Regions from separate parts of the Homo sapiens genome. Here region 1 is linked to region 2. The links come from fine-mapping of genetic effects on gene expression. A gene starts in region 2. The other region holds a variant in brackets. All regions are shown on one strand. Distances are between the middles of the regions.

The links.
Region 1: its variant is fine-mapped to the expression of HPCAL1 in whole blood (INTERVAL, PIP 0.97).

What each region holds. Positions count from the first base shown.
Region 1 is chr2:10,332,726-10,341,052 of GRCh38, reverse strand. The region is part of intron 1 of HPCAL1 (hippocalcin like 1); the gene reads right to left. Among named protein-coding and RNA genes, the nearest start is that of HPCAL1, 34 kb to the right of the region's middle. The variant G/A (reference allele first, on the strand shown) is at 4,528.
Region 2 is chr2:10,299,121-10,307,447 of GRCh38, reverse strand. HPCAL1 (hippocalcin like 1) reads right to left here and starts at 4,544. Exons shown (of 5, transcript NM_002149.4): 1 at 4,271-4,544. It overlaps LOC101929691 (a long non-coding RNA gene), which reads left to right and starts at 4,731. Exons shown (of 4, transcript XR_922791.3): 1 at 4,731-5,870; 2 at 6,435-6,606. RefSeq lists silencers at 3,650-3,829, 4,148-4,345, 4,230-5,009 and an enhancer at 3,910-3,969.

The sequences.
Region 1 (8,327 bases), 34 kb before region 2:
GAAGGGAGGTTAGTTCAGTGGCCATCACATGTAATTTATTCTGATTTTATTACATATCCAATATAGTATCTAGAATTTATAATGATATTCTATGAGGAAGGGAAAAAAGTGAAATAATTTAACCCAGAGAAGAGGAGTTTGAGAGTTAATTTCATGAACTCGGCATGAAGCATGATTATAAGAGTGCTGTCTTACCCGGAGGGCAGTAACAGGACAGGGATTCAGGAACAGGGGAGGACAGGCCCCAGGCGTGGGCTGGCTGGAAGGGCAGGGATATGGGGGAACTGCGGGGCCCTGCAGCCTGGAGACTTTCTTCTCCAACAGTGCTTAGGGATAAGACTCAGTCTGAAAGGAAGCCCTGATGTCTGAAGTGAGAGTTTGAAAGCAAAGCTTTGAGAGCAGCAAGCTTGGGGTTGCGTCCCAGCTCTGCCGCTTACAGACTGCGTGGCCCTGGAAAGTTCAGTCCCCTCTGAGCCTGCATCCCCATGGTGCCAACAGGTATGACACCCCCTCCTGGGATGTTCCTGCGCCCTCCTACAGATGACCTCTCAAAGCTACCTATTCCTACTATCTGAGGGATATTCTGAGTCATCCAACGTTAAAGGCACATTAATAACTAGAACATTCCACCACCAGTCCCTGGAAAACATGTTTATCAAGATAGTGGCACAGTTCTTAGCAACAGGTCCTACAATACTGTGGCTACACCTTACATGGTTAGAAAGCAGCCTAGACACTGCACACCAAGAAGCTCCAGTAATCAGTGAAGGAAGCATTGATATCTTTCCCGTTCAAGAAAGGTAACTGGGATCAGAGATGTTAAGCCGCTTCTCCAAAGCCACACAGCTGGTTGAGGGGCTGAAGTGCACCCTTGGGTCTATGTCTTCCTTCCGCTTTGTTGTGGGGAGGAGCCGAGGCAGGGATGGGGGAAGGCGGTGCAGGCACACCCCACCACTGAGGCCAAATGTTGAAGGCTCATACTATGAGAAGCAAGGTGATATCACAGGACCACAGATTTTACCAGATCAACAAAACCAAGTGAAAGAACTCATCCCAATGTCATGAAGCCCAGACTAACCAAGAATCCCCTCCCCATACCCCTCACATACACACCTGTGATGCCCAGTAGGACCACAGGGAGAGTGCTGGCTCCGCTGGGCGCACGCAGGGGCTCAGGCCTCAACGCACAGGAACCCCAGGAGGCCCACAAGCCTGGGGCCTCCGTTTCGCCAGCCCTGTTGCTACGTCCTGCCGGGCATGAACATGGCGAGCTATCTCCGAATCTTGCTGTGTAATCTTACATGCTCTGAGCCTCAATTTCCCCATCTGTAAAGCACAAATAAGAGGACCTACCTCATAGGATTGTTGTTTTTTAAACTTTTTACTGTAAAAGAGTTCAAATATGGCTGGGCGCGGTGGCTCACGCCTGTAATCCCAACACTTTGGGAGGCCAAGGCAGGCAGATGACTTGAGGTCAGGAGTTGAAGACCAGCCTGGCCAACATAGTGAAACTCTGTCTCTACTAAAAATACAAAAAAATTAATCAGGCATGAAATCCCGTCTCTACTAAAAATACAAAAATTAGCCGGGCATGGTGGCATGTGCCTGTAATCCCAGCTACTGGGGAGGCTGAGGCAGAGAATTGCTTAAACCCGGGAGGCGGAGGTTGCAGTGAGCCGAGATCGCACCACTGCACTCCAGCCTGGGTGACAGGTCTCAAAAAAAAAAAAAAATTAGGTGGGCATGGTGGCGCCCACCTGTAATCCCAGCTACTCCAGAGGCTGAGGCAGGAGAATCACTTGAACCCGGGAGGTGGAGGTTGCAGTGAGCCGAGATCATGCCACTGCCCTCCAGTCTGGGTGACACAGCGAGACCCTATCTCAAAAAAAATTTTTTTTTCAAATATACATAAAACAGAGAGATGAGTATAATGAATGATGGGCACCCATTCCTCAGCTTCGTGCAAACAAGTCCTGGCATGTGTGTCTGTCTGTGCCCTCACTCCCATCCTGCTGCTTCCTGGCAAACACATGGCAGCCACACATCCCTCCATCTCCAGCCACCTCAGTGCCACAGGGCTGCTTTGAGAATTAAATGAGATAACAGGAGTAAAGCACTTAGTTACAGTAGCAGGCAGGCAGTAAGTACTCAATAAACATTAGCTTGTATTCCATGTGATTATCAAATTAATGACCAAACCCCACCACTGCACCATGCTTCTGGCTGCCTCCATCTCTGCTTTTTCCTCTATCAAGTGGAGGCGACGCCACCTCTCCTGGACACTTTGTGGATACGCCTCAAAGCTCTACGGAATCCATGGAGGTGAGCTCTCCGACCTGCACCCTCCACGCACGTGGTGTCAAGGGGTCTTGCCAAGCTGACTCTGGGTGCATGTGGGGTCTGCACCATAACTCAGGACTGTGGCTTACTGACTTCATACATACCTGGTCACCAACACAGCACTGGGCACAGAGTAGGTGGCTGAACAATCACAGGTCCCGCTCCGTGACACCTGCCCCAGCCAAGTGACCCACCAACTTCATCTCACGGAGTCTCATGCCAACCCTACGAAGTAGGAATGATCCCTACTTCACAGATGGGAAGACTGAGACTCAACGAGGTTATGCAATCTATTTGAACACCACACAGCTGATATCCAGGCCGCACTGATCCAAAGTTCACACCCCATTCTCTTATGTTGCCTCCCAATAATTTGTCAATTTGCTTTGTGTGTTTTTAAGGGGTACGATTCAGTGATTTTCAGTTTATTATTCACCAGGTCCTACAGCCACCACCACTATCTAATTCCAGAACGCTTTTCATTACCCCCAGAAGAAACCCCGTGCCCCTTAGGAGTCGCTTCCCATCCCTCCTCCCCACTCCCTGCAATCACGAATCTATTTTCTGTCTCTTTAGAATTGCCTATTCTGCACCGCTCATGTACACAGAATGATAGAATATGTGGTCTTCTAAATGCGCCACTTCTAAAAAAGTCACTCTCCTTCATAAACAGCCACCTCTCTGCAGTTCTGTTGACTAACAGGATTTATGGAGCTCCCCTGACTTTCTCTAAAAATAGTAAATCCCCTCCCCAAGTCCAGTGATAGTCAGTGATACCTAAATACAGACTAAGCCGGCGCAGCCATGGCCGACCCATCCTCAGAGGGCAGGCTCGGAGGTACTGCCGGGAACATTGACAGAGACCATTCCTAAGAACCAGCCTGCACCTCCTGGGGGACTGAGAAACCAGCCACTGAGGACTGTGAAAAACGGGGCACAAGAGCAGGAAGGGAAGGTGGGAAGGAAGGGGCTGGGGGAAGATCTTAGCCACAGCCTCCAAAGGCCAGAGTGGAGGAGAAAGAGCCCAGAACAGAGCAGGGCCAGGGTCTACGCCTCATCCCCAGCTGTGCAGCCCAGAGCACATTTCTCAGCCTCTCTGAGCCTCAGGCACCTTGTCAGTGGAGGAGTGGAGAAGCACCTGCAACCCCACAGGGAGGCTGTGAGAAGTAAATAAAACGTGGAAATAATTTGAAAACTACCAAGCTAGATATGCTGTTATAGTCACGGTGGGCAACCGGGGAGCCAGGGACTATTTCTACCTAATAATATTGTTCTTCTTTTTTAAATGGTCATCAGGATGAATAATTACCTATAATTCACAGCAAATGCAGTGACAGTTAAAACCTAGCTGACATAATAAATAGTAAATACTTTACAAATATGCATATTCCTAATGTAGCAATTCTACTTGTAAGAATACGTGAGGAGGCACGAAGACACGAAAGGAGGGGGAGGCAACTGCTCATCACAGCACGTGGTGAGTGGTCTTGGCTCAAAATCCTCCCTCCCTGGCCTCCCTATGGGAGGGGTCTACTTCTAACCCCGCCAACACTGGTTGGGCCCCAGGGTTTGCTTCAGCCAATGCAATGTGAGGGGAACTGACACGCACCACATAGCCATTCCCACGTCTGAGCAGAAGCTTTAAGAGGTATATTGTTCCTGCCGGGTCCAGTGGCTCACACCTGTAATCCCAGCACTTTGGGAGGCTGCGGTGGGAAGAACACTTGAGGCCAGGAGTTCAAGACCAGCCTGGGCAACATAACAAGGCCCCCATCTCTACGAAAAATATAAAAAGTAAAAATTACCCAGGTGTGGTGGTGCATACCTATAGTCTCAGCTACTTGGGAAGCTGAGGCAGGAGGACCACTTGTGCCCATGATTCCGGGGCTGCAGTGAGCTATGATAGCACCAGAGCACTGCAGCCTGGGTGCCACAGCAATATCCTGTCTCTAAAGAGGAAAAACAGAAATAGAATTATGTTGTTCCACCATCTTTTTTCCCTCTGCCATGAGACCAGCAATGTCTCAGATGGGGCTGCTCTGAAAGCCTGGCTCCCTGAGGGACAACGTCATAGAGCAGAGCCACAACCAACAGGTGATGGTCATGTCACTTGAGGGACAAAGAATTCTTCATTGCTGCAAACCACTAAGATTTGGAGGGTCATTAGTACCAGAGCATAGCCCAGCT[G/A]ACCGACACACAGTCATGTTCCTACTAATGCAAAAGTGCAAACAACCTACACGTCCACCTAAATAAATAAATGACCCATCTCCACAATGGAATGTCAATAAAATGATGTATACATTGGCATAGAAGAACATTCTCAATACGCTGCTAACTGAAAAAAGCAGAGTATAAAATAGCATGAACTGACAAAGGATTAGTCTCTAGAGTGAAAAAAAGAAAATCTACAAATCACTAAGAAAAAGATAATCCACCCAAAAGGAGACTGGACAAAGGATATGAACATGCAATTAATTTACAGCAGAGGATACGCACATGCAATTAATTTACAGCAGAGGATACGCACATGCAATTAATTTACAGCAGAGGATACGAACATGCAATTAATTTACAGCAGAGGATACGAACATGCAATTAATTTACAGCAGAAGATACGCACATGCAATTAATTTACAGCAGAGGATACGCACATGCAATTAATTTACAGCAGAGGATATGAACATGCAATTAATTTACACCAGAGGATACGAACATGCAATTAATTTACAGCAGAGGATATGAACATGCAATTAATTTACAGCAGAGGATACGAACATGCAATTAATTTACAGCAGAGGAAAGCAGAAAGGACAATAATGTATCGAAAATATGTCCAACTTCACTAGAACTTAGGGAAGTACAAATTCAAATAATCATGAGATACTATTTTACACCCATCAGAGTGTTCAGATGTTAAAGTCTGACAACACAAGTGCCGGAGAGGTATGAGGAAAAGGAGCTCACTGACCCTTGTAGAGGGGAGTGAAACTGCCACAAATGCCTTGGAGATGAATTTAGTAATAAACAGTACTGTTGAGCGTGAGAATACCATAGCACCTGGCAATTCCACTGCTAAATATTCTAGACCTCTAAGGAATTCTCAGGGTGTGCTCGTATTGGTTATCTGTTACCGTGTAACAAATGACCCTCCAAAAGTCAGCAGCCGAAAACAACAAACATTATCTCACAATTTCTCTGGGCTGGGAATCTGGCTCAAGGTCTCTCATGAGGTTCCCCTTTGCTGTTTTCAGGGCAGCAGTCTCATCCGAAGGCTCAGCTGGGAGTGGGGAGCGGATGGAGATCTGCTTCCAAGCTCACTCACATGGCTGTTGGCAGGCCTTGGTCCCTTGTCACCTAGGCCTGCCTCTCCACAGGACTGCCTTGAGACATGGCATCTGGCTCCCTCCAGGGCTGGCAATCCAAGAGGGCAACAGAGAACACCCAAGCTGGCAGCTGCAGTCTTTTTATAACCTGATGTCAGAAGTGATGTCCCATTCCTCCTGCTGTGTTCTATTTGTTAGAATCAAGTCAGTTAAGTCCAGCCAACACCCGAGGGAAGGGATTACACAAGGGTGTGAAGACCAGGATGTGGGGACCAGTGGCGGCATCTTAGAGGCTTCCTTCCACAGCACTCAAGGAGGATCAATATTCATATGGCACTCTTTATACTAATGAAAAAATGGAAGTGACCTAACTGTATATGACTAGAGAAACGATGGCTTATTTAGACAATGGGGGCTGGCACAGTGGCTCACGCCTGTAATCCCAGCAATTTGGGAGGCCAAGGCAGGTGGCTCACTTGCGCTCAGGAGTTCAAGACCAGGCTGGGCAACTTGGCAAAACCCTGACTCTATAAAAAATACAAAAATTAGCCAGGCATGTACCTGTAGTCCTAGCTACTTGGGAGGCTGAGGTGGGAAGATTGCTTGAGCCTGGGAGGTGGAAGTTGCAATGAGCCGAGATCGTGCCACTGCACTCCAGCCTGGGTAACAGAGCGAGACCCTGCCTCAAAAAAAAGTCAATGGAATTGTATACAGCAGTTAACAAAAAGGAGAAAAAAGAAGACCATGAACCACATCTATGTATCAACATGGATACAGCTTAAAAATTGTTGACAAAGTAGTCAAGAACAAATTACAAAGTGATATATATATATACCATTTATGAGTATTTCTTTCTGTTTTCTTTTCTTTTTTTTTAAAGACAAGGTCTCACTCCACTCCATCATCCAGGCTGGAGTACAGTGGTGTGACCACAGCTCACTATCACCCCAAACTCCTGGGCTCAGGAGAGCCTCCCACCTCAGCCTCCTGAAGAGCTGGGACTACAGGTACATGATGCTGCACCCACCTAACTGTTGTTGGTTTTTTTGTTTGTTTAAAAAACAAAACAAAACAAAACAGGGTCTTGCTATGTTGCCCAGGCTGGTCTTGAATTCCAGGCCTCAAGCCTCCTCCTGCCTCAGCCTCCCGAAGAGCTGGGATTACAGGCGTGAGCCACCATGCCTGGGCCACCATTTATGAGTATTTCTAACACATAAAAACTAATGTTTTGTTTAAGGTTACGCACATGTGTAGCAAGAGCGTAAAACGCGCACAAATATGATCCCTACTTCCCTCCGCAGAGTGGCTATTGGTCACTGGGGAAAGAAAAGAGTAGAGAAGAGGAGAGATGGGCTTGGGCTGGCTCTGTAATGCTCTACTGGAATTTATAGTACAATCAATCAAAATAAAACAAAAATATGGTCTTATTTTTGCTAAAACATACCCACATTTCTGTTACACATATCTACAAAGCATCTGTAAAATCTGGACACAGATGACATTATTTTATTCCTTTACAGGTTGATGTTCTTGATGGCATTAGGTCTCTTCACCTATGTTTCTAGACTTTATGCACACTTCTGGAGAGGCAGAAATGAGTCTGGAGGGGTATAGCTCAGAATGCTAATAAAAGTTATATGGAGGTGGGCAGGGTAGTTATGGGGGAATTTTTTTCTCTGTTTTTCTGTGTTTTCCAGTCTTACCAAAGAGACATAGAATATTTGGGTAAAGAAATAAAAACTTTCTTCAAAAATCAAATCAAACTCAAAGCCAAAATGGCCACAGCTGAACACCAAAGCACACCAGCTCTGAGAGCACAGAGCAATTCCAGGAAGGTTTGCCTGGGAACACAGCTGCCCACGTGGGAAGAGAAGGTGCTGGGCCACAGGAGGCTGGCTTAGGCTGGCTTGGGCTACGGTGATACATCTGCCAGCAGGATCCCGAGAGGTGCCAAGAGGCTGCAGCCCACCCATCCCTGGAGGGAATGGCCTCCTGACTTTGCTGAAAGGAGGAAGTTGTGAGGCCAGGCTGGCTCCTTGACCTCCAACAGACAGCAGGGGTCAGATGGAGAAACGTTACACCAGTTCCCCAAGACAGACACAAACATCCACAATTCACTGTGACCACCTGATTCACGCTCCTTGGTAATTTCCCGAGTCTCTCCTGTGAAAATGCATTAGTTTTATCGTAGGGAAATTAGTAAACTTTAAAAAGAGAAGAATCTTTGTCTAGCATTTACAATGCCCAAGAGGCTGATTAAAGACCCAGTGCAGAGATCGTCAGCAGGTCAGGCCCCTGGTGGCAGCGTCCAGGCGTCATGGGGCTCAGGCAGGGCCCACTGTGCCCCACACATCCAGTGAGCCCTGAAATCTCCCACAGAGCCCCAACAAAGACCCACCCTGCCCCTCCCCCCTGCACCCCTCACCCCAAGATCAAACTTCACTCAGGCTCCTCTGAGCCCTCTTTCTGCCTCCTGTCTTCAGCCTGCCTGGCCCAGTCTCAGCAAGAATCCTGCTTAGTCAGTTTAGTGAGCCTCTCACGCCCTTCACATCTGACCACCCTTGAGATCCAATCAGTCCTCATCCCCACCTTTGACATCAAAGTCCCCCCCTGCCTTTGGCAAGAATCCCCCTACCTGTGATGTCTTCTCGCAGCTACTTTCCA
Region 2 (8,327 bases):
AGATGTGGGCATAGGTGAGTTCAGCCAGTGCACCTGGGCAGGTAGAAGGAACTGTCCTCTAGACATGCACTTAATATCATGCCTACCTGAGAGGAGACCTCACTTGCCTAAGGGGACACAGAGCAAGGAAAGATTTAAGCTAGGGCAAGAGAGTACTGAGGCGAAATCTGGGAAGACTTCCAAGAGGAGAACCACGCACCACCCAAAAGCCTTCTTCCTTTTTTCAGGGTCACAGCAACCTTATCCATGCAGTACGTATTTAACAATCCTGAGTTTTCTTAGCCAAGGGTCAGAGACCCATCCCTTGCTGGAGAAGACCTCTTGTCTCATGCCACAGGTGGGGCTAAGACACCTCCACCCCCAGGCTCCTGGCTTCCTGCCAACTTGGGTAGTACCTCAAGCACCAAAAAGATCCAAATACCCAGACAACCCAGCTGCGGGATTAGAAGCATTCAGGGTGCACTTGCTTCTTAAGGTAAAGGCACACAGCCCCAAGAAGTCATCTTTCCTGCCCTGCTGCTGGCAGAGGAGGGTGGCAACAGGAAGAGAGTGGAGGTCTCTGGGAAGGATTTCTTTAGTTCGTCATGCCTCCGATGTGAAGCTTTGCCTCTGAAATTCAATTTTACTTGAAACAACATGGCCAAGGTAGGGCTCTTTAAAGGATTTACTGTGCTTTTCAGATGATTTAAAAATCTTGAGACTTGCGCCCTGCTCATCAGCATCTAAGAAATGTTCCACCTGTCAAACCGTATTGATTACCTGAAGTCATATTACAATCTGCACCACTAGATTCCAACCATTTTTTAGTCTTTGTAGAAAGTGATTTGAAGAAACCTTTTTTCCGTAGGGTAACTGGCACCAAAAGAGCCCCTAAGCCCATGCTGCTGTCTCCATATACAGCCACCCTCTGTCATTCCCAGATTAGAAACTCAATCTAAGGGGAAAAGCACAAGAGCTACCTGACATTCACAGATGTGCAGCTTTACATGAGGACATAAGAACGACACAGAAACCCCCTGCTACCATAGGAGAGCAGGGAGCCCCAAAGTAGAGTGTGATTAAAATCTACAAGTGTCTGCTCATCCTAACTCCAAACATGCCTCCCCCACCCCCCAGCACAGTGACATCAGGTGCTGACAAACTAGCAGAATACACATAATCCCCCATCAATCCTGGCCTGGCAACTCATCAGTTGAACGCATTATCCCACAATGAACAAGCACGGTTTAGGGCTTGCTGGAATGCAAAATTTTAATACAAACCTAACCCCAATCTAGATAAAAATTCAGCTGCCAAGTAGCTTAATCTTCGGTGCCAAATAAACTCCGGGGCCCCCGTTAGTACCCTGGATTATCACTGGTTCATGAGTGAGTGTGGTACTCTACCACTTATGAGTAGCAAAAAGGGTCTTAGAATAAGTGTCACAGGGAGACAACTGCTCTGACGCACACTCAGCAGGGCATGCACTGTACCCGCGCTGCAGACCTTGGAACTGTGCTTGCAGAGCCCTGAAGGTAGGGGGTGTGAGCACCAGCGCTTCAACAGGAGGAAACAGCTCCAGGGTGAAATGGTGCTAGGTGAGTATGGGGCGCCTGGCTGGGGCGTTTGCACCAAGCGAAGTCCAGTCCTTGTCCTTCCATAGACTGCACTTCTAATTCTGCACAGCCCTGTGGCCAGAAAGGGGACGGAGTGTGTCCACGTTCTTGTATTTCACTTAGAATCTATCTCTAGGAGGGCTTGTTGGAAATAAATGGGTCATTGGCTGGAGTTTGGGCAAATCTCTGTTCTTCTGGGGTTTTGACTTGTTCTGGTTTCTCCACAGATCAAAGGACCTTCCATTTATTGGATTCCAAAGACAAAGTCTCCCAAATTGTTATCACACATTGACATTTCTGTTCCACCTTAAAAACAGCATGAAAGTGGGACGCAGAGGGAGCAGGCAAGGCTAGAATGTGCCACCGTGGCACCACATCCCACCGCAAGGGAGAGGCAGGGCCCCCGGGCCTTCCCTTTGCCACATTATCCAATAAAACCTCAAGAGCTCAGTAATTACAGGCACTTTCAAAAGTGAAACAGAAATAGATCTAAGGCCAAAACACTGGCTTGCTTGAGACAAAGGGCTGGCTTTAACTAGAAAAAAACAAAAACAAAACAAAACACAAACCTGGGTTTGGGTCTGTCTTCTGAGCTGAGAAAGCCAGACTGATTTTTTTTTTAATATTATTATGGAACCTGATTATGAGGAAAGAGTAGGATTCACACCAAAAGCCCTTTTTTCTTGTAGGACATAAAATCATTTGATGAAACAGAAAACAGGGTGCATTCTAAGTGTGCCCCTGTCACTAAGTCAGGATGAAAAATGAGAAAATGAGTTCATCGCATCCCCCTGGCCTGCCATGGCTAGGATTGCAGGGCTTCAGTCTCGGCCGAGGGAAACCAAAGGAACCGGACCAGGTTTCTATCCCTGGCTCCTAAAAGCCCGCAAAGCAGCCCGCCTCTCTGGGAACACCATCACGTAGCCCCTGACAGTTGGGAAGCGCATCCATACCAAAAGGCCGCCCATGCTGTCCCCTCCGCAGCCCAACCCCATGCCGGCGCTCCATTTTGAGAGCCTCCTGCACTGGTGAGATCTTGGCTCCCTTGGTTAAAGGCGATTTTTTTCCCCCAGAGAAAGACACCAAGGCGATGAAGGGAAAGAATATCCTTCGCTCTGGCCGAGAGCCACCCGACCCCTAGAGCTGGCCTTGCTGCGTCCGAGCCAGCGCCGAGGCGCCAGAACTCTCCAGAGAGTGAGTCGTGGTAAGAGCTGGGTGCTCGTTCACTGCGGTTCAATTTTACGACTAGTAGGTTTCAAAAGTAAATGTTTTAAATTAAGGTGTGGGACTAGGAGGAGGTGTCCCATGTGGCACCCCCGGCATGAGGCTGGCTGCAAGGGAGCAGGGATGGCAGGGGCTGGGGCTGGGGGTTGTCTAATGCCGAGGCCAGCAGCTGGACTCGGCGTCCCTGGCAAACATCCTCCTCTGGTGGAATTGGGGTCAGCCAGGAGGAAAGGGGTGGCCTTTGGCGGCCGGGACACCCCGGGAGCCCGAGATCTGCATGTGCGGGAAGCGCCAATTTTACGCCGTGACTCTCGGACTCCACGAGCTGAGCTGCATCCTCCCGGACTAGGAACTTGTTGAACCAAAGGGTTCTCAACTCCGCAGTCGCTGCCTCCCGGCCAGGAGAGGGACCCCCACGCTTGCGCGGGAGCCTGGGGGCTGGGGCAGGGCCGGCGCCCAGCGCGGCGCTCTCGGGCACTCGCGGAGGCGGCGCCGCCCGGGAGGTGCTGCAGGAGGCAGCGCAGCTGGCAGCTAAACTTTCTCGAATCTCAGTGCTTCGCGGTTAAGTTAGGGCCAGGGAGAGGCACAAAACACGCCCGGGGAAAATGTAAGGCCCCACCCACGATAAAGGGGAAAAAAAAAGGATTTTAAACAGGAGACGCTAATCCAATTAACACAGTACCTACTGTGTGCGGGGCTTTGGACCAAGAGCTGTCTTCAGTGCGTTCTCATTTCACCTGTCACCACAGCCCCCAAGGGAGGAGCTGTCCTCATTTTAAAGAGAAGCAAACCGCGACCGGGGAAGGTGGCGCGTCTGGCCCAGGTCGCAGTGCGGGTCGCGGGGAGGCCAGGGCTCTCCTCGTCGCCCCATGGCCCTGGGAGGAACGAGCGGATCGCCTCCGCGTGGGCCCCCACCCTTGGCAGAAGCTCACAGGCGACCCACGTGGGCCGCACGGACCTGTTCCCTGAGGGCTGCCCAGCCTGCCCGCGAGGCCCGCCCTTGCCCGTCGGGTCCCAGCTGTCCTCGAGGCTCCTAAGCTACGCACTGCGCCGACCAGCAGGGACAGGGGGCTCTGGGCGTGGGGCTGGACCACCCACACCCACCCCGCCACCCCGCTCTGCGCACAGCTGCTCACACACGACACCCGCCAGGCACCGCTCCCCACCAGCAACTGCGCCCCGACACACAATTCCACAAACGCAGTCCAAAATGTGCACACCTAAGGCACACATGGATGCCCACGAGTACACGCCATTCGAAAGACACACCACCGTCCGCAGTCACCCACAACTCCACCGCGCAGAGAAACGCGGGCACTCCCGGACACACACACGCGCGCACAACACACACGCAAAGAGCCGGATCGCAGCGCTCGCCGGTGCACACGCCGGGTGCACACGCCCGGGGCACACTTCAGCAGCCAGCAGACCGCAGCCCGCCCCTTCCCTACCTGCTCCGGCGCAGGACGCGGTCCGCCGGCTTCCCGAGCCCAAGTTCGGCGCCGGCGGCGGCTGCAGCGGGCCCGGGCCGCTGCCCGGGACAAGCGCGCCGAGGCCGGGAGGAGTGACTAGCAGCGCGGGCCTCCGTGCGCCCGCAGCTGCTGCGCCGGCCCTGCGCTCATCGCCGCCCAGAAAGACAAAAGGAAGCCGGCAGCCAGGGAGGGAGCAAGGTGGAGGCGCCCGTCAGTCCGCCCGTCCGCTGCCCGCCGCCGCCGCGGCCCGCCTGCCAGCTCCGGGAAGGAAGGGACGCGAAGGCGGGACCTGGAGGCGGGACCCGGAGGCGGGGGCCGGGGCGGGGCGCGCGGCCAGAGGCGGGCGCTCAAGTTTCCTACGGCCCCGCCCCCTCCGGGCCCCGCCCCCTCCACGCCCCCTGCCGGACCCTCAGCGCCCGGCTCGGCCCTCGCAGCCCCTGCACCTCGCTGCTCCTCGGCCCTCGCGGCCCAAACCTGGCCCTGCCGGGTCCCAGCCCCCAGTGGCTTTCGGGACAGGGGCGGAGCCGGGCACCGGTTCTGTTCCCCTAACCCTTGGCCTCTGGCCTGCTGGTATAGAAGAGGCCGAGAGGCGGCGCCCGGGAGGGGCCAGCCCTGCGCCCGCGCCCCCCGCCCCCACGCCGCAGGAAGTGGCCCGGGCGGCCTAGGAAGGGGAAGAGCCGAGTTGCCCCAGCCCCGCACCCCCAGCCCCAGCCCCGCGTGCAGCTCGCACCCCTTCCCACGCCTGTTCGGGGGAGAGCCCCGGGCCTGGAGTGGGAAGCCTGGCTCCAGCTCTGGTTACCTGCAGTGACTCCCCAGGCCGTTTAGGCGAGTCCATTGGGCCGCCTCTGCCTCGGTTTCCCCACCTAACCACGGAAGGTGCTCCTCCCTTCCAGGCATCTGTGGTCTTCGAGCTCCACGCGGGAGAGGCGCCGGTCTGGCACCTCCTGCCCAGGGTCGGCGCCTCCTGGCTCTCGGGGAGGGGGGCATCCTCCATCCCCTGCACCTGCCTCGAGAGGAACCAGGGACAGAGCACCCCCACCCCCACCAGGAGCTCCGGAAAAACGGCTTCAGAAGAGCAAATATACACACACACCCACCTCCCGCCCCAAACATCCCCGAAGAAAGGTAACCACAGAAACAGCCAGAAATGTGGAGCTGGGCGATCGTATGAGGCTGAGACAAAACTGTCTTTCTAGCGTCTCTAGGGGAGAGCTTGAATCCCTCCTTCCACTCCTCCTCCACGGAAAACAGAGTGAACTCCTGCTACAGAGGCCGCCAGAGCAACATGCAAGACCAGCTTTGAGGGGAGCGGGCACAGGGCCTTGCAGGGAAGGTGGGCCGAGCCCAGACCCCTCATTCTTACTTGGCTCTGAAGGCGGAAAGGCAAAGCTAGACCTCGAGGAAGTTCCCCTCCCTGTGGGCCCTACAGTGAAGATTACATGAAGGCATGTGGGCGGTGGACCAGAGTGCACCGACTGATGAAGGCGGCCCGGTACCCGCGGGTGCCATGCCTCCTTCTTAGCCAAGGCCACTCTAGCTCCCCGTGAAGTATCCAGGTAGAAGGCTGGTGGGGTTACAGGTGAGAAGCCGTCGGTGGGGTCCAGGAGCCAGGCCTGGGGAAGCACACGTCACTTCCACCCACATCCATGGGCCAGAAGTAGTCGCACAGTCCCACCAGGATGCAAGGGGCTCTGGCAGCTGTGGTCTTCATGAGTGTTTCGGAAGTAAACAAAGCCGGTTTGATGAACACGTAGAAACATCCCTGCCACAGAAACTGAGCAGATTTCTCCCAAGCACACACAGGGCAAAGGGGCAAAGTCTGTCCACAGACTCACAGGAAGGGAGGTGCATGGCAGACACAGGCAGGAGGTGGGGTTGGGGTGGAAAAGTTCAGGGAGGGCTCAAAAGCAGACCAAGGCCTGTTTCTGAAACCCAGCCCACTCACTGGTTCCTCCACACTTGGCCCATGCTGTTCCTCTCCCATGTGACTTTTCCATCTTCCCCCTCCAACCTGTCACCCATCCATCCTTCAAAACTTAGGTCAGTTAGCTCTCACCTAGCCCTCAGCAGCTTAGCCCGCAGATGCTTCCTCTGTTTCTGAACTTCTAGAGAAACACACTTAACCGCAGACCTCTTATTCCAGGAGTGTATCTCTCTCAGATGAGATACAAGTTGGTCCCTTCCCTTGCGTCCCTCCTGTTCCTTCAAGAGGAGGACTGTCTACCCACCCCGAAGCTTCATGGAGAGAGAGCACACCGTCGTTATTCAATATGTAGTTTTGAATTTAACTAGAGCAAAGAAGAAAGCAAATTCAGGTAAGATGTTGTATAATTTCCTGGGGCTAATGTAACAAGCACCTCCAACTGGGCAACTTAAACAACAGAAATGTGTTGTTTTGTAGCTCTGGAGGCTGGAAGTCCAAGATCAAAGTGTTGGCAGGGCTGGCCCCTTTGGAGAGATGTGGGGGGCAGTTTGTTTCATGTCTGTCTCTTAGCTTCTGGTAACCTCATGCATTCCTTGGCTTATGGATGGCCATGTGCGCTCCCTGTGAATTCACATCTTCTCTATATACCTGTCTCTTTTCCCTTTTCATAAGGACACAGTCATTATTGGATTAGGGCACACCCTAATGACCTCATCTTAACTTGATCATCTGTGCAGACCCAATTTCCAAATAAGGTCACATTCACAGGTACCAAGGGTTAGAAGTTCAGCATCTTTTGAGGGAAACAATTCAACCCATAACAGGTGTCATGCTAGATAAACAATTTGTTTTTCATATGATGACTGTAAACAAGACAGAAGTAATTCTGATTGTTCTTAATATCTGACTTAGTTTTATGACAATTTTTTTCTAACTTTTATTATAATATACACATAACATAAAATTTATCATCTTAATCCTTTTAAAGTGAACAGCTCAGTGGTATTAAATACATTAATGATGTGCAACCAGCACCACCATCCATCTCCAGAACTCTTTTCATCTTGTAAAACTGAAACTCTATACCCATTAAATAATGACTACCTCTCTAATACCTTACATAAGTGGAATCATACAGTATTTCCTTTTTGCAACTGGATTATTTCACTTAGCATAATGTCCTCAAGATTCATCTATGATGTAGTGTATGTCCAAATTTCCTTCCTTTTTAAGGCTGAGTAATATTTCCATGTGTGTGTATACCACATTGTGTTTACCCACTCGTTTGTCAAGAAATCATTGGGTTGCATCCACATTTTAGCAATTATGAATAATGCTGCGACGAACATGGGTGCACAAATATCTTTTCAAGATCTTATTTTCAGTTGTTTTGGGTATATACCCAGAAGTGGAATTGCTGGATTATGTGGTCATTCTATTTTTAATTTTTTGAAGAAGCATCATAATAATACTTTCCACAGTGTACCATTCTACATTCTGCCAAACAGTGCACAGGGTTCCAATTTCTTCACATCCTCACCGCCAGCACTTTGTTGTTGTTGTTGTTGTTGTTGTTGTTGTTGTTGTTGTTGTTGTTTTTGAGACGGAGTCTTGCTCTGTCACCCAGGCTGGAGTGCAGTGGTGTGATCTCGGCTCACTGCAAGCTCTGCCTCGTGGGTTCACGCCATTCTCCTGCCTCAGCCTCCCGAGTAGGTGGAACTACAGGCGTGCGCCACCAGGTCTGGCTAATTTTTGTATTTTTAGTAGAGACGGGGTTTCACCATGTTGGCCAGGCTGGCCTCCAACTCCTGACCTCAAGTGATCTTCCCACCGCAGCCTCCCAAAGTGCTGGGATTACAGGCGTGAGACACCGCACCAGCCCGATTTTGCTTTTTGATGCACCAAATTTTTATGAAATCCAATTTGTCTATTTTTCTGTGTTGTCTGTGTCTTTAATGTCATATCCAAGAAATCACTGCCAAATCCAACATTGTGGAGATTTTGCTCCAAGTTTTCTTCTAAAAATTCTATAGTTTTAGGTTACTTTTAGGTCTTTGATCTATTTTGAGTTAATTTTTGTATATGGTGTTAGGTAAGGGTCCAGCTTCATTC